Linked DNA regions of Homo sapiens. The protein of the gene in region 2 purifies or fractionates together with the protein of the main gene of each other region. This does not show direct contact. Each region holds a gene or a part of one and is shown on either strand. Other genes may lie near its edges. The genes, in order: ALS2 and NEK1.

Region 1 (16,061 bases), on a different chromosome or scaffold from region 2:
TTGTTTCTACCCTGAAAGGCTCTAGAAAAATTATAATGACTCCAAAGTCCCTTATAGGTTTTTTTTATTGTTGTTGTTGTTTGTTTGTTTTTGAGACAGAGTCTCGTTCTGTCACTGGGGCTGGAGTGCAGTGGCGCAATCTTGGCTCACTGCAACCTCCACCTCCCAGGTTCAAGTGATTCTCATGCCTCAGCCTCCTGAGTAGCTGAGATTACAGGTGTGTACCACAACACCGGCTACTTTTTTTTTTTTTTTTTTTTGTATTTTTAGTAGAGATGGGATATCACCATGTTGGCCAGGCTGGCCTCGAACTCCTGACCTCAAGTGATTGGCCTGCCTTGGCCTCCGAAAGTGCTAGGATTACAGGCATGAGCCACCACGCTGGCCCCTTGTAGGTTTAGAATCCTCTTAATCTTTGGGTCTGTCTCTTGATCTAAACAGATTTCACCCCTCAGAGTGACCCAGGAACTGATTGATGTAGGCTTTCTACATTTGAGCCTGCTGTGAAACCAGACTAAAGAAAAGACCTACAAGGTCTTTAAACTGATCTAGCTTTAGCTGTGAAGGTTTGACCTCTCAAATATCCCAATGAGATACAGCTTTCACCTCAATATGGCCTCAATTAATAAAAAAATTTTCCACCAGATCAGCTTAGAATTGTTGAGAGTCAGAGTTCAGTTTCCCTGGATGTAGCTTTCATATGCTTTATATTTCCTTCCTGAAACACTCCCACTCCCATCCTCATTCTGGGACAAAAGTCATTTTATCATGAAAATAAAGCCCTCTTTGACTATATTGGTTCTCTTTCACCTATCCATCTCTGAAGGATTATTTACTCTGTGTTTTGCTAACACTTTCTTTCTCTATTATTCACTTCTCATGTTATATCAATGGCCCTTATCCTTATCACAGGGGTTCAAAATCAACTGTGGAAGCTTTTTCAAAACAAAACCTGCCTGTATTCCATCACTATACGTTATAATTTAGTAAGTCTAAGGCACAGCCTTGACGTCATATATGTGTGTACACATATATGTATTTTTTTAAATGTCTCCATATAAAAATAATGATGATACTTTTATTGAATGAATTCTATATGCCAGGCACTGTTCTAAGCAAGTTATATGTATTCATATATACATATAACTTTAATCCCCACATCAACTCGGTGAAGTAGGTATTATTATTATTACCGATTTCATCATCAGCCTTTTACAGATAAGAGAATTGAGACACAGCTGAGAATTGGCAGAGCTAGAATTAATATCCAGGCTCTGGTTCCAGAATCTGTCCTCTTAACCTACTTTCCTAGATTGTCTTTTATGATATATAACCTATTAACAAAACCACTGCATTATTCTGGTACATTTTTTATCTTGTCTAATTATGGTACAAAGATCATACCTTATTTTTTTTTCCCTAGCACTCTAGCAGAATGTTTTATATGTGGTAGATACTCATTAAATGTTTCTTAAATGAATGGAAAAAATGAAAATGAGTGACTCTCAGAATTGTAGCAAGTAAAGTAATTACTCATAAACGTGAGAGATCATCCTTTGATCTTACCTTCTGCTCCCTCGCTACATGGTGTAGCGGTTACACCCATCCCAGTAGTTGTTTCTCAAAACTTGGTTTGCAGACCCCTGGGGCTTCCAAAGACTATTTCAAGGGGTTCACAAGGTCAAAACTATTTTCATGACAATACTAAGATATTTGCCTTTTCCACTGTATTGTCATTTACACTGATGGTGCAAAAGTTAAGGTGGGTAAAACTGCTGGCTCCTTGGTAGGAATCAAGGCAGTGGCACCAGACTATACTAGTAGTCACTGCGTTCTTCACTGCCATGCAGTTGCAGTTAAAATACAATTTCGCTTAAGAATGTCCTGTTATGTGTGGTGACATGCAAAGTACATGTAAAGCAGCTCTGCTGCATGCTGAAGTGTGGCAGTTTTTCAAGAAAAAGCATGACTGTGATAGTTGAGTTGAGAGCTCCTCTTGAAATAAATGGGTTGCTTTTTTTTTTTTTAAACTTGAAAGGACAATTGACAGATAAACTGATTTTTCAGATTTGGATATTGGCAGATATTTTCTCAGAAATGAGTAAATGAACCTGTCATTTCAAAGAGAACAACTGATAGTATTTGTTGCCAATAATAAAATCTCAACTTTTAAGCGAAAATTAGAATGTTAGAGATGGATCTGCCACTGTGAGTCTGACAGTTTCCTGATACTTAGGACTTTATCTCATGAGATTGGTAGTTCTATTATCCTGTGATTTTTGATGTTATAGAAAAAAAGGTATCAACATTTGGAAAATCTGCATAATTCAGTCAACCGATATTTTCCATATGTCCAATCCACAATCATAGATGGTACAAAGCCATAGATGGTAAAAGACCCATTCAAAGTGCATGATAGACCCCTGGATTTTAACATCACAGGGTACAAAAAGCTCATTGCTGTGGTTTCAGATTCTACATTGCAGCTCCCTTTAAGAATCTACCACATAGCAAGTTTTAATATAGTATCAAAGGAGAATATCCACATTTATTTGAAATGGCTATTAAAATGCTTCCCTCTATTCCAGATATATACCTTTATAAGGCCACATTTTCTTCATAGGTTTTAACCAAACAACATATAACAGATTAAATGCAAAAGCTGATATAAAAGTCCAGCTGTCATTTTTAAAGCCAGATAATAAAGAGATTTGAAAAAATGTGGACCATTGCCACTTTTCTCACAAAAAAAGTTGTTTTTTTTTTTTTTTTTTTTTTTTGAGACGGAGTCTCGCTCTGTTGCCCAGACTGGAGTGCAGTGGCGCATCTCGGCTCACTGCAAGCTCCGCCTCCCGGGTTCACGCCATTCTCCTGCCTCATCCTCCCGAGTAGCTGGGTCTACAGGCGCCCGCCACCACACCCGGCTAATTTTTGTATTTTTTTAGTGAATACGGGGTTTTACCGTGTTAGCCAGGATGGTCTTGATCTCCTGACCTCGTGATCCGCCTGCCTCGGCCTCCCAAAGTGCTGGGATTACAGGTGTGAGCCACCGCGCCCTACCATTAAAAAATTTTTGTAAGTGAATTAATAAAAGCTTCTAACATTTCTTAATTTTATGTTCTAATATGGTAAATATCAATAGATACAGTCCACATAAGAAAAATAAAGGGATCCCGAGACCAAAATATTTGAGAACTCCTGCTCTATCCTGGGGTCTCTGCTGCTCTATTCACTAACTGCCAGGTTTTGTCTCTGTCACCTGAGTTATGCCCCTATTTCATATGTACTTTTATGTAGTAGAATTTTTCTGAAACCAATCTCCTTTTCCCAGTCTCCTGCAGTGTGCTACTTATGCTCGTGGGCTGAATTTTCTCCTACATTTAATACTATATGTCTAAGGCAGACTGAGGCTACAGATTCTGCATAATGGTTTTATGTTCTTTTTTTTTTTTTCCTCTTTAATTTTTGCCCTGTAGGCATCTCCAGAATATCAGAAACTGCAGGATTCCAGTTCTTGTTATGAGTGTCTTGCTCTCCATCTCGGCAGGAAAAGGAAGGAAGCAGAATACACACTGGGCTTCTGGAAGACCTTCCCCGGAAAAATGACGGTAAGCCATGCCAGTTGTCATTTGTTACCCTAGCAAACAGCAACCATTTCGATAACAATTGATACAATTTTCTCTGTTCCTCACTTGTTTGTGGTAATAACCTTTTAATGACCCCTTTCCTAAAATGTCTAAGGACCATACTAATGGGTACTCTAAATACCTTCTCTCATTTCTAGAAATCCTCTCTGAAGACTTACTCACCTTCTTTAGTTTGTTTTTGTCTTCTTTTTAATCTCCTTTGAGCTCTAATTTTGTGAAGTGTTTAGATCCCATATAAATTTAGATTTTACACCAAGCTAAGCTACGACCAGCAAATTCCCTTAAATGTGATTTGTGTCTGTTTTATTTTCTCTTTACATGTTAAAATAATTTTGATTGTTTGACTTGTATTATATTTGTCTTTAATTCCAGGATTCCTTGAGGAAGCCAGAGCGTCGACTGCTGTGTGAGAGTAGTAACCGAGCCCTGTCTCTGCAGCATGCTGGGAGGTTTTCCGTGAATTGGTTCATTCTCTTTAATGATGCCCTGGTCCATGCCCAGGTAGGCTGGATTCCTAACCTTAAAAGAATTCCTGAAAGGTGGACCCCTATCCTTATTAACTGTACTATCAGTTTATGTTCAAAACTAGTGTGATTTTACTGAAACTGTTGACTAAAAGAGGCTAGCCATCATTCTCAGCAAACTATAGCAAGGACAAAAAACCAAACACTGCATGTTCTCACTCATAGGTGGGAACTGAACAATGAGAACACTTGGACACAAGAAGGGAAACATCACACACCGGGGCCTGTCGTGGGGTCGGGGGAGGAGGGAGGGATAGCATTAGGAGATACACCTAATGTAAGTGACGAGTTAATGGGTGCAGCATACCAACATGGCACGTGTATACATATGTAACAAACCTGCACATTGTGCAGATGTACCCTAGAACTTAAAGTATAATAATAATTTTTTTTAAAAAAGAGGCTATTTTAGCTACAGCATGGATTTCTGTATGCGTTGGATTTCAGAGAACTTCTTAAGTTTCCAGCTTGAGAATGAGTGTCAGCCATGTGAAGAGGGCCCTGCAGCAGAGATGGCAAGGCCCTTTGGGTTAGCTGTGTTATGGGGACAATGTGGCAGAATTGGTGGCACCTACATGGGCTTAACTATTTCAAGGGGTTCTGCAGCAGAGACTGCAAGGCCCATGTGGGTTAATGACATGAAGGGGATATGGGCAGAGTCCCCGAGGTCTACATGGGCTTTCATAAAAGTGCCTCCGTGTTCTCTGTTTCAGTTCTCCACGCACCATGTTTTCCCTCTGGCCACGCTGTGGGCAGAGCCACTGTCTGAAGAAGCTGGTGGTGTGTAAGTGCGTCCCCCCTCCCCACCCCACCCCGTCCAAGTCTGTTACCCAGGTTGCTTCCTTAAATGTGAAAAAAAGCTCAGGAAGGCTTCGGAGACAGTCTCCTCATTCTGTATAATGAGGCCCACCTCTCAGCACATTAGACAGTAAAGTAGTCTATTGATAATAAAATGGCCTGTTGTGAAGATCATGGCAAGTCACGATTAGGTGATGAAAGGGCATCTTCATTGCACACATCCCCATCGTTCAGCACAGAGCAGAGAATTCTTTGTTCTTTCCACCGTGGTGGCGCCCAAAACCAAGCAAGCATTTACATTAATTGATTTCTGTTCCTCTTGAAATAAAGAGGTTGCTTTTCATATTTGAGGATCGATACTGTAATGACAGGTTGTTAAATGTCCTGGTATTTATCCTTGTGAACGTTTTAGGAATGGCTTAAAGATAACTACACCTGAGGAGCAGTTCACTCTCATTTCATCTACACCCCAGGAAAAGGTTAGTCTATTATGGTATTTTCCTTCAATCTTCGCCCTGGCTCTTTCTGCCTCTTGTGTAATAAAGAAGAAATATAAATTGTTCTTGCTTGACTAATGATGCACAGTTCTGTCTGATAAATCTTCATTAACCCAAAACTGTAGGTTCTTCATTGTTTTTTTTTTTAATGTGACTTAATTTTAAACATATAGCAGAGAAATACAAGAGCCAGTCAATATTACTCTATTAATAAGAAAAGCATTAGGACACAAATAATTTATTCACACCAAAGAAAACTAGCAGGATTTAAAGCAATGCTTGATGAATTGTTGCCTTAAACTTATTGACGTTACTTTTTGCTCCTAGACAAAGTGGCTACGAGCTATAAGCCAAGCCGTAGATCAGGCTTTGAGAGGGATGTCTGATCTCCCCCCTTATGGAAGTGGTAGCAGTGTTCAGAGACAGGAACCACCCATTTCACGCAGTGCCAAATATACTTTCTACAAGGATCCTCGCCTAAAGGATGCCACCTATGATGGACGCTGGCTTTCAGGGAAGCCTCATGGCAGGTGAAAATGTTGAAGATTTATGCCTGGGGTGAGGATGATCATCACATGATAGAAAAAGTATTAATTATCTGAAATATTAGTTGACATGCATTATTCTTTGCTTATGCATTCCAGAGGGGTTTTGAAGTGGCCTGATGGAAAGATGTATTCTGGCATGTTCAGGAATGGCTTGGAAGATGGGTAAGAAAATTGTGTAAAACATGACAGTAAATTCAAGTTCGGTAAGGTCGTAAATTATGTTATTTTGTATGCAGAGCTGCTTTTCAAACAAGTAGTAGATTTTTGTTGTTATTTTTTAGAAATGCACATGTATGAGCATGAAGAGAGCCAGGAGTGAGGGGTACAGCCTCTGATTTACCTAGACTGGGTCATTTTCCCTGATAGCCGTGTGACCTCAAATTACACAGCCTTCCATCTGTTAAAATGGGGCTATGTTTTCTATTCATTTCTCAGTTGTGAAGACTGAGATCTTTGGTAATGTTAATGGTGGGACTATTGAGATGGTAGTCCTCCTTTACACAAAGGACATAGAAAAATTTTCCTTTCAGTCGTTTTAAGTCATCTTTAATTTCTGTGATCTGTTAAAGGAGAAATTTTCCAAGTGCTATATTATCTCAATGATGCTCTAATGACTTTTTAAAAATAAGTTTATCATGTTTTCTAACACTGTAAATGTATTTACATGATTAGTTTATGGCAGTATTTTGTATAATGTTAAGGAAGTAATTTAGTATATAAAAAATGTTGGGTAGGTGATTTTGTGTGTCTGTGTGATCATGTAAATTCTTGTGATGTGTTAAAATCTCTTTTTAATAGATTGTTAGAATGAGAAGAGACTTTAGATCATCTAATTTACCCACTGAGTTGCCCCTCTTATTATCCAAATAAAGGAGCTAGATACCTGGGCTTACCGCATGGTGGTGCAGGTAATTAGTGACAGAGATAGGTGAAGGACACAGGTCTTCTGTTTTTCACTGGAGTTGGATTAAAACACCATATCTTAGTGTAGTGGGGCTGATGTCCCACTCCTCTTGCCAAACAGCTTAGGTTATAGATTCACCTTAAACCAAGATGCTGTTTTAACCCTTTACTCCTACAGGTGAATGTTTTCTCTGTCTTCCTTGTTAAAATGTTTACCAGGATATACATACAAAAGGTGAATATGTCATAAATGCATCTTCTTTTGTTATTTTTTCTTTTTCATGGCAGGTATGGAGAATACAGAATCCCAAACAAGGCAATGAACAAAGAAGACCATTATGTGGGCCATTGGAAAGAAGGAAAAATGTGCGGTCAAGGAGTCTACAGGTAACATTGGAAAGGCTGTTGGACTGGTGTTTGTTTTTCATATAACCATGTAAACCTGAATGTTTGCATAGCCAAAATTTCCAAGTTTTAAGTTTTGTTTAGTCTTATAGATAAAATTTAGAGGAGTAAATAAAATTGAAACTCTGTGTGATCATCTTTTAAAGGTTAACCCCTCATCTATCGCAGGATTAAAATACTGGATTATTAAATTTAGTTCTTATCTAAATTTTTTTTTTTTTTTTTGAGATGAAGTCTCGCTCTGTCACCCAGGCTGGAGTGCAGTGGCGCAATCTTGGCTCACTGCAAGCTCTGCCTCCCAGGTTCATGCCATTCTCCTGCTTCAGCCTCCCGAGTAGGTGGGACTCCAGGCGCCCGCCACCACACCCGGCTAATTTTTTGTATTTTTAGTAGAGACAGGGTTTCACCGCGTTAGCCAGGATGGTCTCGATCTCCTGACCTCGTGATCCACCCGCCTCGGCCTCCCAAAGTGCTGGGATTACAGGCATGAGCCACCGCACCCAGCCCTAAATTTTATATACCTTATAAACCATAATTTTATGAAAAAATGGTCTTATCTATAATAAGACATATAGGATTCTAATGGACAAAACTTTTATTCTTCCCTCTTAAAAATAACTCATTATTTCATTTTCCCATAAGAGAATAAAAACACATTGTTTTTCATGTTAATGCAAAATACCACACATGGTGTCTTTAACTTTTTAACTTTAATCATTCGAAAATGAGGTTTTTTTAATTGGTGAAAAATAATCATATAAACAAATAATTATAGCTACCAGTGAGACTGAGTATGGTTTTGGATTTTCTAAACTTTGTAAAAATGAGCATCAGAATTCAATGTGCATGTGATAATTATCCATTCTTTCCAACCACAGCTATGCTTCTGGTGAAGTATTTGAGGGCTGTTTTCAAGATAATATGCGTCATGGTCATGGTCTTCTACGAAGTGGGAAATTGACGTCCTCTTCTCCTAGTATGTTCATTGGCCAGTGGGTAATGGATAAGAAAGCAGGATATGGTGTCTTTGATGATATCACTAGGTACAGTATTCTCCTTCTATTCCCACAGTTTAAGCCAATGATTAAGCACCATCATTATTTAACAAGCAGTTTATACTTATTTTGTCTTTTTCATGGAGATTAGTAAGATTTCTTTGAGTTTGAGTAGGTGAAAAATGAACCTTCTTTTATGACAAACCCTTTTATTTACTTTTTTATTTTTTGAGACAGGGTTTCACTCTGTCACCCAGGCTGGAGTGGTGCGATCTCAGCTCACTGCAATCTCTGCCTCCTGGGTTCAAGGGATCCTCCTACCTCAGTCTACCAAGTAGCTGGGACCACAGGCACACACCACCACGCCCAGTTAATTTTTTGTATTTTTGGTAGAGATGGGGTTTTGCCATATTGTCCAGGCTGGTCTCGAACTCCTGGCCTCAAGTGATCCACCTGCCTTTGCCTCCCAAAGTGCTGGGATTATAGGCATGAGCCACCGAATCCAGCCTCTTTCTTTTTAAGTTAGCAAACTTTTGTGTAAGAAAAACCTGTGCATAGGTTTTATTCTGCTTATTACATTTTAAATGAAATTATTTAGAGTTGAATTCTAGACCTTCTTTTTAAAAATTATGTATTTTAAAGTTACCAAGTAACTACCTGGGATATATACAGATCTGTGTCAGACCACAACATTAAATTCCTCAGAGAGGATTACTGAGTGAGATGTCTTTTGCTATCACTTTGTCCCATATTTGAGGAGACAAAGTTAACTATTTTAACTAGAAAAATGGAAGCAATACCAACCTAGGGTTGATGCCTGGGATCTCCCATGTGATAATTGTCTTTTCCCTACTTTATCCTTATCTTCAGTGCTTTTTCTTTTCTTTTTATTTCTGTGCAGGGGGGAAAAGTATATGGGAATGTGGCAAGATGATGTGTGTCAAGGGAATGGTGTGGTGGTTACCCAGTTTGGATTATACTACGAGGGCAACTTTCACCTTAATAAAATGATGGTGAGTGGAATATTTGCATGTAGTTATTACTAACTTTTTAAAGCTCCTTTGTCCTTAACTTTTTAAATCATCTTTTGATTAGTTTCCACCTTCTTAGTACTATTTTCCTTCTTTTAAGATTCCATAAGGCTTTGGGGATATGACTGCGTGCACTCTTAAGTTACTCTGTATTTTATGTGTTGTAATTTTTCTCTTGTTTCTTCTTGTAGGGAAATGGGGTTTTGCTTTCCGAAGATGATACTATCTATGAAGGAGAATTTTCAGATGACTGGACTCTTAGTGGAAAGGTTGGAAACTAGCTTTCTTTTTTTTTCTCCCTAATAAATTCTTTTACTAATTTTTTTTTACTTTAAAAATAGCTGATTTACATGCCATAAAATTCACCCCTTTCAAGTGCACGTTTCAGTGATTTTTGGTCAACATGGCTGTACAAACCACCACCACAATCCAGTTTCAGAACATTTCCATCGCCCAAGAAAATCCCTTCTGCTCATTCAGTGACTTCCATTTCCACCTAAAGTCCCAGCCAACCACTAATCACCCTTAATCACTCTATAGATTTGCCTTTTTTGGGCCTTTTGTATAAATGGAATCATACATGCAATCTCCTCTATGTGGCTTCTTACACTTAGTATAATGTTTTTGTTTTTTCCATATTGTGGCATGTATAGTATTTGTTCCTTTTTATGGCTGAATAGTGTTCCAAAACTACATTTTGTTTATCCTTTTACCAGTTGATGGACATTGGGTTATTTCCAACTTTAGACTATTGTAAATAATGCTGCTATAAACTTTTGAATGCAGTTTCTTGTGTAGACATATGTTTTCATTTTCATTTCTCAAGTAGATGCCTGGAGTGTAATTGCTAAGTTGTATGGTAAATTGATGTTTAACATATTAAGAAACTGTCGAACTTTTTTCCAAAGTGTCTGTACCATTTTACATTCCCATCAGCAATGTCTGAGGATACTAATTTCTCCATATCAAAAAATATTTCTTATTTTCTGTCTTTTTTCTTATAGCCATTCCAATGGGTATGAAGTGGTATCTCCTGGTTTTAATTTGCATTCCCTAGTGACTAATGATGTAGAACATGCTTATTAGTGATTCATATATCTTCTTTGATGAAATGTCTATTCAGATCTTGGCCTATTTCTAAAATTTTGTTTGTACTCTTGTTGAATTGTATGGGTTCTTTCTGTATTCTGGATACATGTCCTTTATCAGATATGATTTGTAAATATTTTCTTGCAGTCTGACTTGTCTTTTATTTTCTTAATAGTGTCTTTTGAAATAGAAAAGTTTTTCATTTTAATAAACTCTATAAAAAATTTTATGAATTATGCTTTTGATGTTATGTCTAAGAAGTCTTTGCCTGTTGGCTCAAACCTGTAATTCCAGCACTTTGGGAGGCCAAGGCAGGTAGATCACGAGGTCAGGAGATCAAGATCATCCTGGCAAACATGGTGAAACCCCATCTCTACTAAAAATACAAAAAATTAGCCAGGCGTGGTGGCGGGCACCTGTAGTCCCAGCTACTCAGGAGGCTGAGGCAGGAGAATGGCGTGAACCTGGGAGGCGGAGTTTGCAGTGAGCCGAAATCGTGGCACTGTGCTCCAGCCTGGGTGACAGAGCGAGACTCCGTCTAAAAAAAAAATGAAAGTTTTATAGTTTTGCCTTTTATATTTAGGTCTGTGATTCATTTTAAGATAACTTTTGTATATGGGCTGAGTTATGTGTCCAAACTAATCTTTTTGCATATGGCTATCCAAATTTCCCAACACCTTTTCCCATTGAATCTTGGCACCTTTGTTGACCAGAAAATGTGTTTATTTCTGGTCTCTCAGTTACATTTCACTGATAAACATGTCTCTCCTTGTGTTAATACCACACCATCTAGATTACTGTTGATTCCTAGTAAGTTGTGAAATCAGGAATATAAGTCCTCCAAATTTGTTCTTTTTCAAAATTGTTCTGGCCAATCTAGATTCTTTGACTTTTCATATAAATTTTAGGACTGGCTTATCAAGATTCTGCAATAAACCTTGCTAAGATTTTGATAGAGATTGCATTGAATCTATAGATTAATTTGGGGAGAATTGCCATCTTAATATTGACTCTTCAACCCATGAACATAGAACACCTCACAGTTTATTTACATCTTTAATTTCTCTTGGCAATATTTTCCAGGTTTCAGTGTACACATCTTGCATTTCTTTGGTTAAATTTATTTCTAAGTATTTTATTGATGCTATTGTAAAGCGTTGTTTTCTTAATTTCATTGCTATAATATAAAAATGCAGTTGATTTTGTATTTTGTTCTTGTTTCCTGAAATCTTGCTGAATTCGTTTATTAGTTTTAGTGGTTTTTTTTGTGTGTGGATTTCTTAGGATTTCTTACATACAGAATCATATCACCTACAAGTAAAGACATTTTTGCTTCTTTCTTTACAATATGGAAGGCTTTTATTTCTTTTTCTTGTCCAGTTGCACTGGCTAGAGTCTCCTGTGGAATGTTGAATAGAAAAATGTTAAGATTGGACATCTTTACATTGTTTTCTATTTTAGAGAAAAGCTTTGTGTGTGTGTGTTTGTGTGTGTGTGTGTGTGTGTGTTGAGATAGTGTCTCACTCTGTCACCCAGGCTGGAGTGCAGTGGCGTGTTCTCAGCTCCCTGCAGCCTCAACCTCCTGGGCTCAAGCGATCCTCCCTCCTCAGCCCCCCAAGTAACTGGGACTATAGGCACATGCCACCATGCCTGGCTAATTTTTTTTTTTTTTTTTTTTTTTTTGTAGAGACAGAGTTTCGCTATGTTGCCCAAGCTGGTCTCAAACTCCTGAGCTCAAGCAATCCACCCACCTCGGCCTCCCAAAGTGCTAGGATTACAGGCATGAGCCACCATGCTTGGCTGAAAAGCATTTTTTGTTAAAGTGCTTTTCCATTATCTGTTGAGATGATCATGTGGTTTTTATCATTTATTCTACTAATATGGTGTATTATATTGGTTGCTTGTCTGATGTTAAACCAACCTTGCTTTCCTGGGATGAATTGTACTTGGTCATGGTGTATAATTTTTTTTATATGTTGGTGTTGCTGGATTTAATGCGAATATTTTGTTGAGGATTTTTGCATTCATATTTATGAGAGGTAATGGTCTGTAGTTTTCTTTTATTGTGATGTCTTTGTCTGTCTTTGATATCAGGATAATTCTGGCCTCATAGAACAAGTTGGGAAGTGTTCCCTCCTCCCCTATTTTCTGAAAGTTTGCGAAGCTTTGGTATTATTTCTTCTTTGAATGTTTGGGAGAATTCACCAATGAAGTCTTCTGGGCCTAAGCATTACTTTGTGAGAAAATTTTTAATTTCTAACTCAGTTTCTTTACTTGCCTTAGGTCTATTTAGATTTTCTATTTCTTATTGAGTCAGTTTTGGTACTTTTTGTCTTCCTAGGAGTTTTTCTATTTCTCTATGTTATCTACTTTGTTGGCATAAAGCTGTTCTCTTAGTATTCCATTCTGTCTTCGTATGTTTGTGATGCTTTAACAAAATGTCATAGACTGAGAAATTTATTTCTTCACAATTTTGCAAGCTGGGAAGTCGAAGATCAAGGCTACAGCATTCCCTGTTTGGTGAAGGCCTTCTTGGCTGAGGCCTCACATAGCAAAAGATGGAAGGGCAAAAAGGCCTAAGATAGTTCCCTCTGGCACTTTTATTTTTATTTTTATTTTTATTTTTATTTTTTTCGAGACGGAGTCTTGTCTGTCACCCAGCCTGGAGTGCAGTGGCATGATGTCAGCTCACTGCAACCTCCACCTCCTGGGTTCAAGCGATTCTCCTGCCTCAGCCTCCTGAGTAGATGGGATTACAGGCACGTGCCACCGTGCCCAGCTAATTTTTGTATTTTTAGTAGAGACGGGGCTTCACCATGTTGGTCAGGCTGGTCTCGAACTCCTGACCTCATGATCTGCCCACCTTGGCCTCCCAAAGGGCTGGTACTACAGGCGTGAGCCACAGCGCCCAACCCTCTGGCCCTTTTCTAAGGCACTGCACCATTCATGAGGACACTGTCCCTAATCACTTCCCAAAAGACCCCACCTCTTACTACCATCACAGTGGGGTTTAAGTTTCAGCACAGATTTTAGAGGAGACACACTTTCCAAACAATAGCACCTTCTAACTTTTTTAATTCTATAGGCTGGTAGTAATAACCTGTTTCACTCTTGATTTTAGAAACTTATGTTTTCTCTTTTTTTTCTTGATTAATCTAGTTAAATGTCAATTTTATATATCTTTTCAAAGAAGCAACTTCTAGTTTCATTGATTTTTCTTTATTTTTTGTTTTCTATCTCATTTACTGATTTTTGCACTAATCTTTATCATTTCCCTCCTCTTTCCTGCTTTGGGTTTAGTTTGTTAGTTTGTTCCTCCTTTTGTAATTTTATTAGGTGGAATTTTACATTACTGATTCGAGAACTTCCTGAAAAGATAGGTGTTAACAGCTAAAAGTTTCCCTCTAAGCACTGCTTGTAATTTACATCATCCCCTAAATTTTGATATATTGTATGGTCATTTTATACAGTTCAAAATATTTTTGACTTTTCCCTGTGTGTGTGTTTTTTTCTTTTACCCATGGATTATTTTCATATACTCTTTTAGACATGCATGTGCCCATATTTTGTTTGAGTTTTAAAGAGTTGGAGACTGGTAAAGAGCAAGTTAAAAAGGAAAACAACCATTTAGTGCTTTTTTTCTCTTGATTTTAAAAATTGAGGGCTGGGCGTGGTAGCTCATGCCTGTAATCCCAGCACTTTGGGAGGCCAAGGTGGGTGGATCACTTGAGGTCAGGAGTTCAAGACCAGCCTGGCCAACATGGTGAAACCCCGTCTCTACTGAAAACACAAAAAATTAGCTGGGCGTGGTGGCGGGCGCCTGTGATCCCAGCTACTTGGGAGGCTGAGGCAGGAGGATCACTTTAACCCAGGAAGCGGAGGTTGCAGTGAGCCAAGATCGCATCACTGCACTCCAGCCTGGGCAACAGAGTGAGACTCTGTCTCTAAATAAATAAATGAATATTGAATATATTTCCTCTAACCCCACATTTTATTCTCTGACTTTACCTAGGGAACACTGACTATGCCAAATGGAGACTACATTGAAGGTTATTTTAGTGGAGAATGGGGATCTGGGATAAAAATCACTGGAACCTACTTCAAACCTAGTCTATATGAGAGTGATAAAGACAGACCTAAAGTTTTGTGAGTAACTAGTGTTAATTCTGGATTAATTATTGAATGTTTGGAGTTGTCTTGCTTTTATCAAAGCTGGTTAATATTTTAAAAGCAAAGTCAAGTTCTTAAAGTCTTCTTTTTTATTTTATTTTATTTTTATTTTTTGAGACAGGGTGTCACTCTGTCACCAGGCTGGAGTGCAGTGGCATGATCATGGCTCACTGCAGCCTTGACCTCCTGGGTTCACGTGATCCTCCCGCATCAGCTTCCCTAGTAGCTGGGACTACAGGCACCCGCTACCATGCCCGGCTAATTTTTCTAATTTTTGTAGAGACTGGGTCTTGCTATTGCTCAGGCTGGTCTTGAACCTGAGCTTAAGCGATCCTCCTGCCTCAGCCTCCCAAAGTGCTGGGATTACAGGTATGAGCCGCTGCACCTGGCCAAAGTCTTTTTTTTTTTTTTTTCTTAAACAAGATGTAACCTCCTTGAATTGTCAACTGACACTGCTTTAGATGACTAAATCTGTAGTCTTGTCTGTAGTCTTGGTTTAGATTATAAGCCTTAAAGCATGGATGTTTAAAAGGAAAGTTCCATGTGTGAGAGAGTGTTCTTTTTTTTTTTTTTTGGAGGTGGGAGGGGAGATGGAGTCTTGGTCTGTCGTCCAGGCTGGAGTGTGGTGGCGTGATCTTGGCTCACTGCAGTGTCTGTCTCCCGGGTTCAAGCGATTCTCCTGCCTCAGGCTTCCAAGTAGCTGAGACTGTAGGTGCACACAACCATGCCAGGCTAATTTTTTGTATTTTTAGTAGAGACAGGGTTTCACCATGTTGGCCAGGCTGGTCTCGAACTCCTGACCTCAAGTGATCCACCCACTTTGGCCTCTCAAAGTGCTGGGATTACAGGTGTGAGCCACCGCGCCCAGCCTGAAAGAGCATTCTTAAATGGAATCTGTACACAACTTGATTTTGAAAAGTAAAGAACATACACACACACACACACCCCAAGTGGAATAGTAAAATCTGCATATATGAGGAAAAAAAGGCAAAATCTAAGTATATTATACCCATTGCATTTTTGGCTTTATTTTCTGTTCTCCCACCATCTCTCCCTAGATGTGGCACAATCACAGAAGTGGACAGTTTTTGGCATATGTCTGTTTTTCTTTATTGATTGCAGCTTTAATTTTATTATTATATTTGGTAGCACCTCAGGTTTTTGTTCCCAAGGATATGTTTTCTGTACCATGTTTATTCTTAGAGTCTTTTAGAACCCAGTATGTAATGCATTTTAAATTCTCATTATAAGATGTGCAAGGTTCAGAAAGTCCTTGTTCTAACAGGAATCAATTTTTATTTTTATTTTTTTTTAATTTTTAAATTTTTTTTTTTTTTTGAGATGGAGTCTCACTTTGTCACCCAGGCTGGACTGCAGTGGCGTGATCTCAGCTCACTGCAACCTGCACCTCCCAGGTTCAAGCGATTCTCCTGCCTCAGCCTCCTGAGTAGCTG
Region 2 (16,061 bases):
ATAAAAATGCATGCTTATGTTTTTAGGAACTTAGAGAAAAATGTAGATGATATTAATTAACTGTTAACATTGGTTTCGTGGAGGACAGCACAGAAGAGCTCTGGGAAGGAGACGATAGGCTTTATCTTTGTGTACTTGTGTTACTGGCTTGTTGCAAGAAGCAAAAACTTTTTTGTTTGAAAGAAAAGTCCAATAAAATATTTAAAGAAAAAGAAACCCCAAAGCACTCTTGTTTAAAAATAAAAAAAAAAATCAATTGTACAGGGGTATATAAACCAGAAAGGGAAATCAGGTAATCTTCTTAGGTAACCTGCTTTATTTACTCATCAATATATCAATGGTATCTTTGTATGTCAATAAAGTAGATCTTGATTACTCTTTTAAATGGCTTTAGAGTATTTCATTGTTTGGATATATTATAATTTAATCAATTCTTTATTGTTATACATTTACAGTATTTCTAGTTTTTCTGGTTATAAACAATAACGGTTATCCTTGTATATAAATCATTGCTCACTTGTTCCAGAAGTTAAATTGCTGAGTCAAAGGATATGCATACTGCTAGCATACCTTCTAGAAAGACTGTAGCAGTTTGTAGTCCTACCAATAGTTTATGACATGAGCCTAAAGAATTATCTAAGGAGGTTAGCTGACTAGCCATTCTTCCTGTAAGCAGCAAAAAGAATTTGCTTAGATTAGTAATTGGCAACATTTCACTTCACTTTGATGTACAAAAGGATGTGGGTAGAACTACAATTGTGCATTCAGACATGATAATTCCTACTAACTGGGGGTAGGAGGGCCCACAGGAGTGTAGACTAGAAGTAGAAAGAATGAGGAAAATAAGTCTTTTGTAGCTGTATGGCGATTGAAGAGGAGATAAAACAAACTCTCCAGCTTTTCAGGTTGGGTGACTTGCAGCGCCATCGTCTGGCAAAGCCGCCAAAATCTTTCAATGTCCCTAGGAATAAAGTTGCCCTGAGTAGGGCCACTCAGGATGACGCCAGATGATATCCCTTATTATAGTTTTAGGGGAATCTCTTCCTACCTTCGCCAGTCCTGCAGTGAAAAAATGTACTTAGACTGCTGTACATTTCCAAACCCTTCAACATACAGACAAGTAATTTATACATACATTAGATGTAAAGGTGTAGAAAACCCCATACAGCTTTTTAAAAATATCTCAAGACTTAAACATTCTTCTGTTTCAACCATCCAAGATATAATAGGAAAAGACTTGCTTTTTAAAGCAAAATTGCTCTTTAAAATGTGGCATCCCTAAGTAGTGCGCTTTCATGTAAAATAAAAAAGTCCCTTTCTCGGTGTAGTAGCTGTGGGAAAATTTTATATGCTTTATATTCCAAATTGGTTTCAACTAGTGAGTTCTCTCCCGCATCTCTGCATGACTCTTAACAGCTTTACACTCTCTCCATCCTTTTCATCTCTCCCGTCTCGTCCTTTCTGTCTTCCCGCCTGCAGAGCCCGCCCCTCCCGTCCCTTCGCACAGCACCCCGCCCGCCCCTTCGCACAGCACCCCGCCCGACCCTACGGTTCTAGCCCAGCCTCACTGCTCCTTCCCAGCCGCCTCCGCTGCGTGCCGCCTTCCACGCGCTGACGTCACACGCCAGCGCCGGTGACGCGCCGGCCGCTCTCCCTTAGTCCGCATTCGCTCCAGGGTTTTGGGACCCTAGGTTGCGGAGTCCTTACCCTACCCTGGCCTCTCGAGCAGTTGTCCCCATAACTCGGAATCTAGAGCCGCTGTTGCGAGGCAGGAGCACGTGGCAGTCAAGTAGCTTCCCAGTCCCGAACGCCGCCCGTCCCCACCCCGCCGTGGCCACTAGCAACGACCTCTGTGAAGTTGGAGAGGCGGTAACGGAGGCACTCCCCCTGCTGCACCCCGCCGTTTCTACGGGGCTCAGAAACCAGTTTGTTTGTTTCGTCGGGGTAGTGTCGACCTGTCTTACGGGCGTCGCCCGAGACAGGACGGAGTCAAACCCGTGGTATCAACTGAAGACGAGTGTCAGGTGTGGAGAGTCTCAGTGCCCCCTTTCAGTCTGGACTGTGAGCTGCTGCTGGTTAGACAGTCTTGGTTTCTCTTTCAGGATGTCATTTTCAAAATGCGGGATGGTACCTCTGCTTTATTAAGCCCCGTAGGAAGACTGCCACACCTAGACTGATGCTTATTAGTCATCACCGTTATTCCTACTAACGTCCTGTGTCACTGAGGTGAGTTCCACTTGGGGGAAGGAATGACATGCAAAATGGTAAAAATCATCCTGGAAATGAGATGTGCGTAGAACTGCTTATATTGAGATTACACAGATACCTTAAGTGTTTGCAGGGAAAATACCTTAATCTCATTTAAATGTTAATTCTCTAAGACACTCTGTATTAACAAAGCGATTCTTGGACATTACGGTATTTTTAAAAACTAGAGCGGTAATGGGATTAAAATAATAGGAATCTTAGTATGGATAAGCAAGCATTTGCATTGCTTATGTTGTGTCCAATCTTAAATTACTGATAAATTTTAATTAGGAAGCGAATATGAGTAGTAGTTAGCTGGTTACCCTGTAATCTTAGATTTCTGTTTCCATGATTTGACACAGTTTCCATATGTAAGGCATTAATTGTTGTACTACTTTAAGAGTTTATCATAACTTTTTTTGCAGGCCTATTTTTTGTTCTTTAAGATCTGCTTTAGGAAGCAGAAATATTTTTTATTGCCTTGGTATGTTTCATTAGAAATGTTTATGAAGGATTAAAAGTGGCATCCAATCTAAGTTAATGACCTTTTTTTATGATGCAGCAGTATTGTAGAGCTGATGGAGGGGAGCCAAATTTGGAGAGAAGTAACTCCTTGTTTCTAGTTTACATTTGTCTGGTTTTAGAGGTTCTACAGATCTGTTTCACTTAAAATATCCATTGTTCTAGGTGAAATGTAAGGAGCCTATTTTGTGGGAAAACAGGTTTTTTTCACGTTAAAAGTCACTGTCAGGAATTTAATAAAGGTCGTCGGACTTGACCACAGAAGTTCTTTTGAGGTCGTGTGAATAGTACATTGACATTGTATTCCAAGTAAATTTTGCCCTGTCTAATCTCCTGCCTTCTAGTCTAAGTCATGAACATGACACCTTTTCACGAATGTACATTCTTTATTTACCTGTTGGTAGTTTCTACTACAAAATCTGTTGAATATTGTCTGAATAGACTTACAGAGAAGAAAAAATATTTTGAAAAAAGTCTAATAGAAATTCCATTTTTGCTTTCTGCTTTTTCGAATAAAGGAAGATAAAGAACTTTTTTCCTGAGAAGATAAATGGATCCCCTCCCACTATTCAAGATGGTATTTATTGCTTAGGCAGAACTGTATGTATGGATTGTAGCTGCATACAGCGCCAAAAGACTTCTTGAAACCTGTTGCCATGCCTTTACCATGTTTCCCTTCAAGACAGCCTGTCTATAGAATATCTGAAACACCTGATGAGAGCTTAATGCTTAACCTAAGTATGTGTTCCAGATTGATCGAAGTTGAGCTTTTCCATTCATATACTCTAAAATTGTTTATATGTGGCTCACAAAATTTTATTATGTCCAAAATTGCTTATTTGTGGCTTTAAAGAAATTCTTAGTGGCTGGGTGCTGTGGCTCTTACCTGTAATCCCAGCAGTTTGGGAGGCCACGGTGGGTGGATCACTTGAGGTCAGGAGGTTGAGACAAGCCTGGCTGACCTGGCGAACCCATATCTACCAAAAATACAAAAAATTAGACGGGCGTGGTGGTGCGTGCCTGTAATCCCAGCTACTTGGAAGGCTAACACAGGATAATTGCTTGAACCCGGGAGGCAGAGGTTGCAGTGAGCCGAGATACTGCCACTGCACTGTAGCCTGGGCGACTGAGTGAGGCTTGTCTCAAAGAAAAAAGAAAAAAAGAAAGAAATTCTGGGTCAGACGCTGTGGCTCACACCTGTATTCCCAGCATTTTGGGAAGCCGAGGCAAGTGGATCATTTGAGGTCAGGAGTTCGAGACCAGCCTGGCCAGTATGGCGAAACCCCGTCTCTACTAAAAATACAAAAATTAGCTGGGTATGGTGTCACACTCCTGTAATCCCAGCTACTTGGGAGGCTGAGGCAGGGGAATCACTTGAACCTCGGAGGCCGAAATGGCACCATTGCATTCCAGCCTAGGCAACAGAGCAAGACTCTGTCTCAGAAAAAAAAAAAAAAAAAGAAATTCTTAGTAAAATGTGAGGAAAGCTGTCTTATTTGACTAGAGGCTGAGGTACTTTTTTCTGGAGCATAGTTCATATACTTGAAAAGAAGCATGATGCCATAAGAAAACTTTGAATGTCAAAAGTGAGGAGTTTGGAGATGGGGAATTGTTGAAGGATTTTAATTGGAGAAATTGATTTAGCCAGTATTCTTACTATTTCTATCAGATATTATTGTTTTAATATTTATTGTTTTGAATAGATAATACATTTGTATGGTTCAAAATTCAGAAAGTACAAAAGATTGAAAAATCTTTTCAACTATTAAATGCCTTCTTTGTAGGCAGTATTACTAGTTTATTGTGTATCTCTCCATAGATATTATTTAATACAAGCCAGGGGTGCATGTGTGTATATATATACATATGTATATTTATACACATATATGAGTAACTGTAAGCATATATACTTATGTATTTCCTTTTACTAAACAAATGATAGCATGCCATATTTATTATTCTGATCCCTAAAAATCTAACAGTGTATTAAGAAATTATATCAGTTTAAAAGTTGCTGTGTTGACTGTATGTGAATGATTACATTTTGCTCTATTAGAAACAGTGCTGCAGAGGATAACTTTGTAGATACTTTGTTTTCCTACATTTGGAAATATTTGTAGGGTAAATTGCTAGAAATTGAATCACTACATCAAAGTTTCTGTCCCCTTATAATTTTGGTAGATGTTGCCAAATTATTTTCCTTAGTGCTTGTACCAATTTATAGTCCCACCATATTGTTTCCTGCTATTCCCCCACAGTACAGTACAATAATCAACTGTGAATTTTGCCATTCTAATTGATGAAACATGCCGTCTCTTGTGCTTTTTTAAAAAAATTGTGGTTAAATATACATAACATAAAACTTACCCCTTGTATTTTAAAATTGTATTTCTTCTTCTTTTTTTTTTTTTTTTTTGAGAAGGAGTCTCGCTCTGTCACCCAGGCTGGAGTGGAGTGGTGTGATCTCAGCTCACTGCAACCTCTGCCTCCCAGGTTCAAGCGATTCTCCTGTCTCAGCCTCCCGAGTAGCTGGGATTACAGGCCTGCACCACCACACCCAGCTAATTTTTTGTATTCTTAGTAGAGACAGTGGTCTTACCATGTTGGTCAGCCTGACATCAAACTCCTGACCTCAAGTGATCCGCCTGCCTCGGCCTCCCAAAGTGCTGGGATTACAAGTGTGAGCCACCATGCCCGGCCAAAATTGTATATCGTTTTACAGGAGATTGGGTATCGTGGCACATTTTAACATAATTTGTATTCATTCTCAGTGTTAACGTTTAACTTCATATCCTTTGTCCACTTTTCTTTTGGATTGTTGTGTTTTTTGGTCTTATAAATATGTACGAGTTTTTTATTTGTTAGAAAAATGAGATCGTTGTAATAGCTAAAATATTGGTCTAGTCATATTAATCCCTCAAGGTTTTTTGATTTTGTGTTGTGCTTCAGCTAACCACTCTAAGACAGAAGTCATTCTCCCATGTTTTATTTTATTACTATTATGCTTTTATTTCTTACATTTCAGTATTTTAGCATCTAGAATTTAGGTTGGTGTAAAATGAGGGAATAAATTAACTTTTTTTCCCCACATGGCTACCCAGTTGTCTCACTGCTGGCTTTGAACTTTTTATTTCAAAATTCATCTTTTTTCCTACTGATTTGAAATGTCACTATGATTATTAACCAAGTTTTAAAAGTTTTTTGATTTCTGGACTTCCTGTGATTTGCCTATTTCATAATTATTGTAGCTTTGTAATGTGTTTTGATATTAAGCCAAACAAATTTTCCTTCATTGCTCTTCTTTTTCAATATTTCTCTGGCTGTTCTTCTTCTTCTTTGTGTGTGTGTGTGTGTGTGTGTATGTGTGTGTGTGTCTGAACTTTAAAATCAGCCTGTCTAATCACCCCCAGCCCCAAAGCTTATGTTTTTATTAGGACAGCATTAACTGTAGAGATTAGGAATGAAAATCTTTATGATATTAAGTCTTCCTATACATTTCTTTCTCCACCCCCACCCCCATCCCGGTGTGTGTTGTTGTTTTTTAATATTTTTCTCTCAGTTTTTTTGTTGAATATTTTCTATTGGTTCATTTTATAGGCTAGTAATCCTGCCTTCTGCTGTGTCCTGTCTGCCGTAAATCCATGAATGAGTTCTTAATTTCAGATATTTTATATTGTAGTTTTAGAATGTCCACTTTTTAGAAATAAATTTTGAGGCCAGGCGCGGTGGCTCACACCTGTCATCCCAGCACTTTGGGAGGCTGAGGCGGGCGGATCACAAGGTCAGGAGATCGAGACCATCCTGGCTAACACGGTGAAACCCCATCTCTACTAAATATACAAAAAAATTAGCCGGGCGTGGTGGCAGGCGCCTGTAGTCCCAGCTACTTGGGAGGCTGAGGCAGAAGAATGGCGTGAACCTGGGAGGTGGAGCTTGCAGTGAGCCAAGACTGCGCCACTGCACTCCAGCCTGGGCAACAGTGCGAGACTCTGTCTCAAAAAAAAATTAAAAATTAAAAAAAAATTTTAATTCTTTGTTGAAATTCTCCATCTTTTAAAAAATCTGTTTTATCCATCTTTTTATCTTGTTTTCTTAGACATATTAATTAATCATGGTTACTTTCAAGTCCTCTATTAGTAACTTCATGTTTGAGTCATTTGTGAGTCTATATCTGTTTTTGTTTAATGTGCATCATTATTTTTTGATGGGATACTAGACATTGTGAATGAAAAGTCTTAGAGACTCTGAAACATGTATCTTGTAAAAATTGTTAGTTTTGTTTTGGCAGTCTGATGAAGTATCAGTGAATAACTTTGATTTTATCCATGGTTGCTTTTAGGCTTTGTTAGGATGAGACTGTTTCAGTCCTCCTCCATGTATGCACAGTTTAGGAACAGAATAACAGGAGCAGAACTTACTGTAGATTTTTGGACTCCTTCTATTATTTTTCCTCTTCAGGATTTTGGTAGCCCTGAACTCTGACCGCTTTCTCTCCTCAGCAAGACTGCTGCTTTATACTTGAGCTCCATTGTACTGTAGCACAGTTTGGAAACTCTCTTCAGGGAAAAGGCTGGGATGAATGTAGAACCCACTAGTATGTTTCCACCTTTCGGTGATTATAGCCCCTCAATGCATTGCTGTTTCTTTATATATTTTGTTCAGGTTTTAAGTTGTTTTGGAAGGTGAGGTGATCTGATACTAAGAACACCATCATGGTTGAAAGAGAGTCTCACGATTTATTATGTAGACTTTCACTTAATCTCCTAGATCATAGATGGGATTTCCATTCTTAGTTGTGCCTGGTGTACCCAATCTAGAGATATCTGTGGTCTTCTTTCAAGATGGGAGAGGAGTACTTATCTGACTGGGAGAGGTGGAGGAGGCAAACTAAGTGTCTGACACTTCTTACACAAGCTCTTCACCAATCCTGTTTGAGTCCTAATATTATCCTCACTCTTAGATGCCCCAGTACTTCCAATTATTGAGCTAGTTTGTGGTGGGAATTGACTTGTTTCTGACTTATTTCCCACTGCTGGCTTAAGGTACAGCTTTTCTCTATTCTCCTAAGTCAGTTGCTGCATGTTCTTTTGTGTTTGCCAGCTTCTAGAACTGTATTGCTGTTGCCTTCTCTTCTGTTTTGCCTTTTTGGTAATCCCTTTAAAGTCATGTTCCTCAGGTTTGGACAAGTAGTAGAGGTAAATATGTACGGGTCAATCTAGTATGCTTAACTGTAGATTACAGTTTATTTATTTTTACTTTTTAAATAATTAGGCTAAAGAAATTAGTATGACTTCTTTTAATTTTTTGATGGAATGGCTTTCCCCATCACTCTTACTCTTTGTGGCTAAGAGTACAATTCTAAACAGTGTTGACATTATATATTTTCTGACTTTTTAATTTTCTTCTCCTTGAGTCATAGACTAGTCGACTTGGCAAGGTCTATAAAATGGCATTAGGTTTAAATCTTTCGTGTTTCTAGATAAAGAAACTGAAGTCCACAAAAGGCAGATGGTTAGCGTTTGATTATGTAGCTAGTCTTGTCTCTTGATTCTGAATTCATTGCTTTATTAGGTGACATAACTCTTTGGAAAGCTCAAATATCAAAAAAGTCTCTGATTTTTTCCTTGTTGCTTATCTTCAGGATCAGCTATGTATTATAGAGATTGAATTGATATAATTATTAGAGACCTTAAGAACACTATAGAGTGAGTAAAGTTGGTATTGTGATTTTCATTTGATGTTGGAAACTGAATGGTAGAAAAGGCAAACATTAATTTGAGTTTATTACAATACTGAAGTAAACAGGATTCGTATGTTCCTTCAGTTATAAGTTATGATTTTGTATGTGGAAGCCTATAGTACAATTTGTTATTGTTTTCTATTTCATTTGGTATGAAAAATTTTATGGAATTATAATTCAGTTGAGAAGTCTCACAACTAGGAAGTAGCTCAGTTAAATATATTGTAAGATGCTGAAAGTAATCTATTTTTTCATGTTTTCCCTTTTACTTCCTTTATTGTACACTGACATTACAAAAAAGGAGAGTTTGTCTGTTTTCCTGAAAGTCATCTACCACAAGTCTTTTGTTGTTCAGAAAAGTGTCTGCATTTGACATATTTGATGGCAATTAGAGTCATCTTTCTTTACTAACAGGATCAGTAGGTCTGCTTTATAGAGTTAGAACCACAATGTTCAGTAATGTTGTTGGCAGTAGAATGCAACACTGGGGACTTTTGGAGCTTCTGTCTTATTAGTGTGGTCCCTAGAAAGGAATTGGCAACTTAATTTTAAGGAATGGCCAAATTGACTAATTTTGTTTCCCTCTCTTGGCAGAAAGTCGCAGAATAATGATGATTGTGAAGTAATCTCATTATATGGCTATTATTTAATTTAATTTTTGAAATTTAGATTACTAAGATGAGTTTATCTTGATTTTTTTTTGTAAGTAGCATAGTAATGTAATATATTAAACATTCATGTTCTGGAAAAATCATTAAATTGTGGCTGGTGCCCAGATAGCCATTATATTGTGCCAGTTAACACAACTTGGGCTTGAAAATATATTTGGAACAACTTTTCTTCTTTAACTCACTGATGCTAAAATGCTATAATAATGGTTTATTTCTTGTTTCTCTTAAAGTTGCTAAAGGCAATCTTGTTTTCTAAGGTAGAGAAAGGCTCTTTCTCACAAAATTTCATGAGTCATACTTATCTCATCAGTGCTACCACAGGCTGAGTTCTGGCCTGTGGTCTGGTCTTGTAGGCACAGCATATGATGTTTGTCATTTAAGGAGATTGGATCATTTTTAGAGGCAAAATAAAGTTAAAAACAAATTTGGCACTGATGGATGAGATAAGAACATGGATTTTTTAATTTACAATGAGAAATATGGTAAACTGCCACAGAAATTTAAAAAGAGTTTCACGACAAACTTATTTTCTCCTAGAAAGGAATCACACATTGGAAGCCTGCTATGAATGGAAATAAAAAAGAGCAAGCTAGGTGAATTAAATGTTTATTAGTTTCAGATTAGCATAGTAAATTCATGTATGTCTACAATAAGGGTGATATTGCCAATAGGTTGTACACATTATTGCTCTTATGACTCTTTCTCACACTTTTTTCAGCTTTCACTAGCTAGCTTATTGTATTCTGGCTTCTCCTGAAACTACCACTCTTTTGAAATTACTATTCCTAAAGATACTAATGACCTTAATCAATTGTTTTGGTATGGTAAGGGTTTAAGTGTGATACTAAAAGTAGAAATATAAAGAAAAGATTAATACATTTGTTTATATCAAAATAATCTTTTATACTTAAAGGCAACTAGGATATAAGGGAAAATAATTTATGACAGATAAGGACTTCATTACATAAGGAGTTTTTACAAATTAAAGACCAACTCAGTATAAAATGATTAAAGAACATGGATGAATAGTTCAAAAGAGAAAAAATAGAAATGTTCAATAAATGTGGCCGCTCATGGTGGCTCACACCTCTAATCTCAGCACTTTGGGAGGCCAAGGCGGGCAGATCACCTGAGGTCAGGAGTTCAAGACCAGCCAACATGGCGAAACCCCGTCTCTACTAAAAATACAAAAATTAGCTGTGTGTGGTGGCACACACCTGTAATCCTAGCTACTTGGGAGGCTGAGGCAGGGGAATCGCTGGAACCTGGAAGGTGGAGATTGCAGTGAGCCGAGATCGTGTGACTGCACTCCATCCTGGGCTTCAGAGTGAGACTGTCTTAAAAAAAAAAAAAAAAAAATGTTCAATAAATGTGGAAGAATTTTTCAAATTCACTGGTAAGCAAAAGAAATCAAAATAAAAACGAAACACCATTTTCCCCATTAGACGTATGGAGTAACAACAATAACAAATAGTGACACAGTGTTCATATGTGCCAAGTACTGTTTTCAGTACATTCTTACATTAACTAATTCTTCCAACACTTCTGTAAATATGTACTATGGTTATTCACATTTTACATGTGACCAAACTGAGCACATAGAGATAAGTAACTTGCCTAAGTTTACATAACAAATAAGTGATAAAGCTAAGATTTAAACTTTTTAGTGTTCTTTAACTACTACCCTTTATTGCTTCTCAAAGATTTTAATAAATAACAACCAGTGTTTTGTTGTTATAAATGACATTACAGTAAACATCTCCCTAAATACAAGAAATAATAATAACCAGTGTTAATGAGGGTACCTAGTAGCAGGCACTACTGGCTAAATACGTATTAGTAGACAGTTCTGTTAAGACACTTAATATGTTTGAAAGCCATACTGTAACATGGGCATATTCTTTGAATTCAGAATTTATCCTAAGGAAATCCTTACAATAAGCACATTAAAATATGTGTACAAAAACTATCCAAAATTGTTCTATACTAGCAAACATTTTAAACGAATGTTGAATAAGAGGGGATTAGTTAAATAACTTCAAGAAATAGTGTATTATTAGGTTTTCATTCTTTTTGGAGAAAATAAAGTAATGCTACTAATTAATTCATGTAAGTTTGCCTTTCTCTCCATACATTAAGTATATGCAGTATTTGGCTTTCCAAAGCATTCTTATAAAATTGAAATATCACATTTTTTTCTCTTTTTTGGATGTAATTAGGTTGTACTAGTAAAGTATATAAAGTGTAACTTTTAGTGAATATATTAAATATCCTTTTTTAAAATGTTAGCAAATCACTAAAGAATTAGAATTTGAATTAAACATTAAAATTGTTATGAAGTTATAATGTTTTATCTCATGTTATAAATGCTTTATCTTTTTTGTTAGTTTTTTAAATGTCTAGCATATCTGTAAAGATGCCTTAGAAAAAGAATCATGGAGAAGTATGTTAGACTACAGAAGATTGGAGAAGGTTCATTTGGAAAAGCCATTCTTGTTAAATCTACAGAAGATGGCAGACAGTATGTTATCAAGGAAATTAACATCTCAAGAGTAAGTATATTTTTAGTTTGGTTTCATGAGTAATGGTTTAGTTACAATAGAGCTCATTGTTAGAGATTTTCTTTAAAAAAAAAAAAAAGTAATCGATAACCTAAAGCAAAAGACTCCTTTATTCCCGCTAATATCAGAATAGCCTATATATTCTTTCAGATTTTTTCTATGATATGTGCTTATGTTTATGTGTTTAGAAAAATATACTTGCTGTTCTGTAACCTAATCTAGTTTGGACATCTTAAAATGTTTCTACTTACAGATTCAACTCATTCTTTTTAACTTCTTGCTATATTTTGTTGATTGAACTGTATTAATACTATTATGTTTTAACCACTCACCTATTGATGGACTTTTAGGTTGTTTATTAATGGTTTCATTTACTATTTTCTTTTTCCTCCCATTTAAGATGTCCAGTAAAGAAAGAGAAGAATCAAGGAGAGAAGTTGCAGTATTGGCAAACATGAAGCATCCAAATATTGTCCAGTATAGAGAATCATTTGAAGGTCAGATAAATTATGCGAGAGAGTTAAAAAATCCTAAGACATTAATAAATCTTTTTGTGAATGCATTCTTAGGAAAAAGATACCATTTTTGCTTAAAAACATACGCATATGAATATCAGCTTGATTCAAGGACAATACTGATATCATGCCTGCATTTTTTTTTTTTTTTAAATTGAGACAGTCTCGCTCAGTGGCCCAGGCTGGAGTGCAGGGGCATGATCTCGGCTTACTCCAACCTCTGCCTCCCAGGTTCAAGTGATTCTTATGCCTCAGCCTCCCAACTGTGCCTGTATAATTTAATACTGGCTGTTATTAGTGATTGCTTTAAAAGAAGCAATGCAGTAAGTGCAAGAATTTGGACAGAGCAAGAACAGTAATTTACATATTTTTTAACTGAACTTCCTGTAAGTGCTGCCACCACTACCACTGAGAAAATGTTCTGATCTTTAGAAAGTATCCTCACTCAGTATGCTCCTCTGTACCTCACTATTATAATAGTGAGGTATGTTGAAAGTTTTCTCAGGTTCTTAAAGTATTATAGCTATAATGCTGTTTTGGAACTATATGCATTATATTTAATAATGCAGGTATTAAGATAAGGCAAAGCTTCTCTAAAGGCAGGTCAAAGTGGTTTATTGAAGTCCTACCCAAATATTCTCATTATTATAAATTTCTGTAACTTAATTTCTGTAAACTAAAAACCAGGTAATCTAGATTGAAAGTAGAAGATAATTGAAATGACTCAGGGACATATCACATACCAGTTTCAGAGTCTGAATTAGAGCTAAAGTTACTACATTCCCAGATGAACTCTGTGTCTACTATAAGTCTCTTCTACTTTTATAAAAATGTGATTCAATTAATACATTATGTCACAAGGTACTGTATTTTTTATGCTGGCAGTGAAATGAAGATTTATATTTCATGTGAAAGAGTACAAAATTAACCAACTCTTCCTTTTCAGGACCTTGAATTTTCCTTTATCTTTCTCCTGGCATCTATCCTTTAGTTTCTTTTTTTGTTGTTGTTAACAAAATTTTAATATTTCAAGTTAAAAGGTTTTGAGCAAATATTCCAGCAGATGTTTTGGATTTATATTGACTGCTTCACATAGAAACATCTGTGTGATTCAAAAGGGGTAGCGTATTTTAAAAATAAGGCTTTATTATTTCTCTTAGTTTTAGAAGAATACATGCTAGCATCAAACATAAATGATAGCATAGTATATGTAATTTTTTGCTTTTTGTTATGCTACATACATTATAACATCTATATACATATAAATAGTGAATTATAGTTTTCAGGAGTTTTTTTCACATTATAATTTCTCACATGTATATTTGGATGATCTTTCCAGGTCAATCATAAAAAGTCATACAGATTCTTAATTAGCTTTATCATATAGATTCTTATCCCAGTGGCACATTACAAACAGTAGATCAAAAGAAGATATGTGCACCACGAGTGACAAGAATGTCACCACAAAGTATAAGAAATAAATACTCCTGGAGGCTGGATGCGGTGGCTCACAATTGTAATTTCAGCAACTTCGGGAGGCTGAGGTGGGAGGATCTCTTGAGCCCAGGAATTTGAGATCAGCCTGGGAAACATAGGGTGTTTGTAGACCCCATCTCTACAAAAATTTAAAAAATTAGCCAGGTGTGGTGGTGTGTGCCTGCGGTTCCACCTACTCTGGAAGCTAAGGTGGGAGGTTTGCTTGAGCTCGGGAGGTCGAGGCTACAGTGAGCCATCATCGTGCCATTGCACTCTAACCTGGACCCTGTCTCAAAAGAAAAAAAAAATACTGCTGGAAATAAGGCCATAGCACAGTCAGTGAAAGAAGTGAGAACTAGGAAAACTGTTCTTTGAGTTGTGATAGTCTCAGTACTATGTAGTGATTCAGAAAATGTTAAAAGTGATATTGGCCACTCTTCCTTACTTAAGAAGTAAGGGATGGAAAGAATCATCAAAGTGTTCTTCTAAGCTGGACACAGTAGCATGGGCTTGTAGTCCTAGCTATTGGGGAGGCTGAGGCGAGAGGTTCCCTTGAGCCCAGGAGCTCAAGGTCAGCATGAGCAAAATATTGAGACACTTTTTCTTAAAAGAAAAAAAAAAGCCTAAATAAAAAAAAGAAGTATTCTTGTAGTCCTTTCTATCCATAGGAAGAAGCACAGAAGTACCTTTCTTTGTGGACCGAGACATAAAGGTGGATGGGGCAGTGCCCATCTTCATGTTTGTTCACAAATCATATGCAATTTTTTAAAAAGTGCATAAAATTAAGGAAAGCTCAAAGAGGGTGGAAACAGTGTATCCTATACACTGTTGAATCCTCAGAGTTTATCACAACACTTATTATTTTATTTATTTAATAAGTAAGTGATTAAAGTGGATAAAACAAAGCAGAGAATTAATGGCCAGTCAGAAAACTAAGATAACCCATCTCTGATGTGATATATTGGTGGAAAAACATGATTTTATGTGTGACATTTAAGGAATTGTATTTATTGAATGAAATCAAGTATGTCTGCATTTTGTTTATATTTCAGAGATGTTTAGGTCAATGCAAACAGCACTATTCAATAAAATAGTGTATTTTTAATAGAAATCATTAATGATGGAGTTTTCTGTTAACCTAAGTCATTATACAATCTTTGTGACCGGTATACCTTGACTTTGTGCCCTAATTCTTTTGAGTATGGTCCTGTTTTTTGTTCAGCAGCTGCTTTTTAGTAAGCTTTTAAGTACTTTTAATTTAGCCATGCTTTTGATGTACGTTTTTAAAAGTGGACTGTAATGTTTATATTTTGTAGAAAATGGCTCTCTCTACATAGTAATGGATTACTGTGAGGGAGGGGATCTGTTTAAGCGAATAAATGCTCAGAAAGGCGTTTTGTTTCAAGAGGATCAGGTAAGTTTGCATTTAGGAAATTGACTCTTACTCTATTATTGAGAAGTAGTTCAAAATTTGTTTATGTGTGTATTTGTTTTTAACTACAAATGCTAATCAAAATTACTAGGGAAGTTTAGTATATCAATAGTTTACTCATATTTACCTCTAATTAGCTGCCACCTTTGTTCAGTTGCCCATCTCATTTATAGTCTGTAATGATATATTGTTATCTCTGTGATGTATGTTATATATATCATGCGTCTATGTATATGCCTTAATTATTCATTATAACTGACTAGTCTATATTCTGTCAATCTGGCTTACTGCTGCCAGACTATATATTCCTAAAATGTGGCTTTGCCAGGTAACTCCAGCTCTAGAAGCCTTGCACCGACAACTGCATTAAATCTAATCTCTCTTTTGATTTCCAGGATCTCTAAAATATGGCCGTTCCCTACCTAAGCAGCCTTATTTTTTTCTATTCCCTAATCTGTACCTCTTTTCATTTGCTTTAACAGATATTTATTGAGCATGTGCTTTGTGTTAGGCACCGGGCCACATGTTTGTACATCTCATTCTCCTTCCTGTGTATTTACTCTGATTATTTCATTTATTTTGGTAAGCCTTTTCCCCAAACTTTGTTATTAATACTCTACCTTTTTTTTTTAAGCTCAGTTCAAGTCCCAGCTTCTTTAAATTTTCCATAACTACTTTAATCTGTGATATTTTCCTTCTCTACATTCCTATCACATTTCTCATTATCACCAGTTCTTAATTTTAATTGCCCGCTTTTACATAGGGGAGTAGAGGGAGCACTGTGCTAGGAGTGTTGTATTTGTTATCTCTTCTAATTTGGATAAGTTTTTTCAATTTATAAGGAATCCAAGAGAGGTTAAGTACTTGCCCCAAATCACATAGTCAGTGTTTGAACCC

Evidence for each region.
Region 1: the proteins of NEK1 (region 2) and ALS2 purify together in Homo sapiens (affinity purification with mass spectrometry; 3 studies listed by BioGRID and IntAct, with this or other methods). This does not show direct contact.

What each region holds. Positions count from the first base shown.
Region 1 is NC_000002.12:201,716,599-201,732,659, reverse strand, and holds part of ALS2 (alsin), read left to right. Parts: intron 1-3,476; coding exon 3,477-3,608; intron 3,609-4,019; coding exon 4,020-4,148; intron 4,149-4,884; coding exon 4,885-4,955; intron 4,956-5,381; coding exon 5,382-5,448; intron 5,449-5,793; coding exon 5,794-5,996; intron 5,997-6,110; coding exon 6,111-6,176; intron 6,177-7,205; coding exon 7,206-7,304; intron 7,305-8,200; coding exon 8,201-8,365; intron 8,366-9,218; coding exon 9,219-9,330; intron 9,331-9,539; coding exon 9,540-9,617; intron 9,618-12,531; coding exon of another isoform or gene 12,532-12,624; exon of another isoform or gene 12,625-12,674; intron 12,675-14,449; coding exon 14,450-14,583; intron 14,584-16,061. UniProt on the Homo sapiens protein: May act as a GTPase regulator. Controls survival and growth of spinal motoneurons.
Region 2 is NC_000004.12:169,598,185-169,614,245, reverse strand, and holds the start of NEK1 (serine/threonine-protein kinase Nek1), read left to right. Parts: upstream 1-1,662; 5' UTR 1,663-2,024; exon of another isoform or gene 2,025-2,102; 5' UTR 2,103-2,226; intron 2,227-11,567; 5' UTR 11,568-11,615; coding exon 11,616-11,732; intron 11,733-12,141; coding exon 12,142-12,238; intron 12,239-15,048; coding exon 15,049-15,146; intron 15,147-16,061. UniProt on the Homo sapiens protein: Phosphorylates serines and threonines, but also appears to possess tyrosine kinase activity. Involved in DNA damage checkpoint control and for proper DNA damage repair.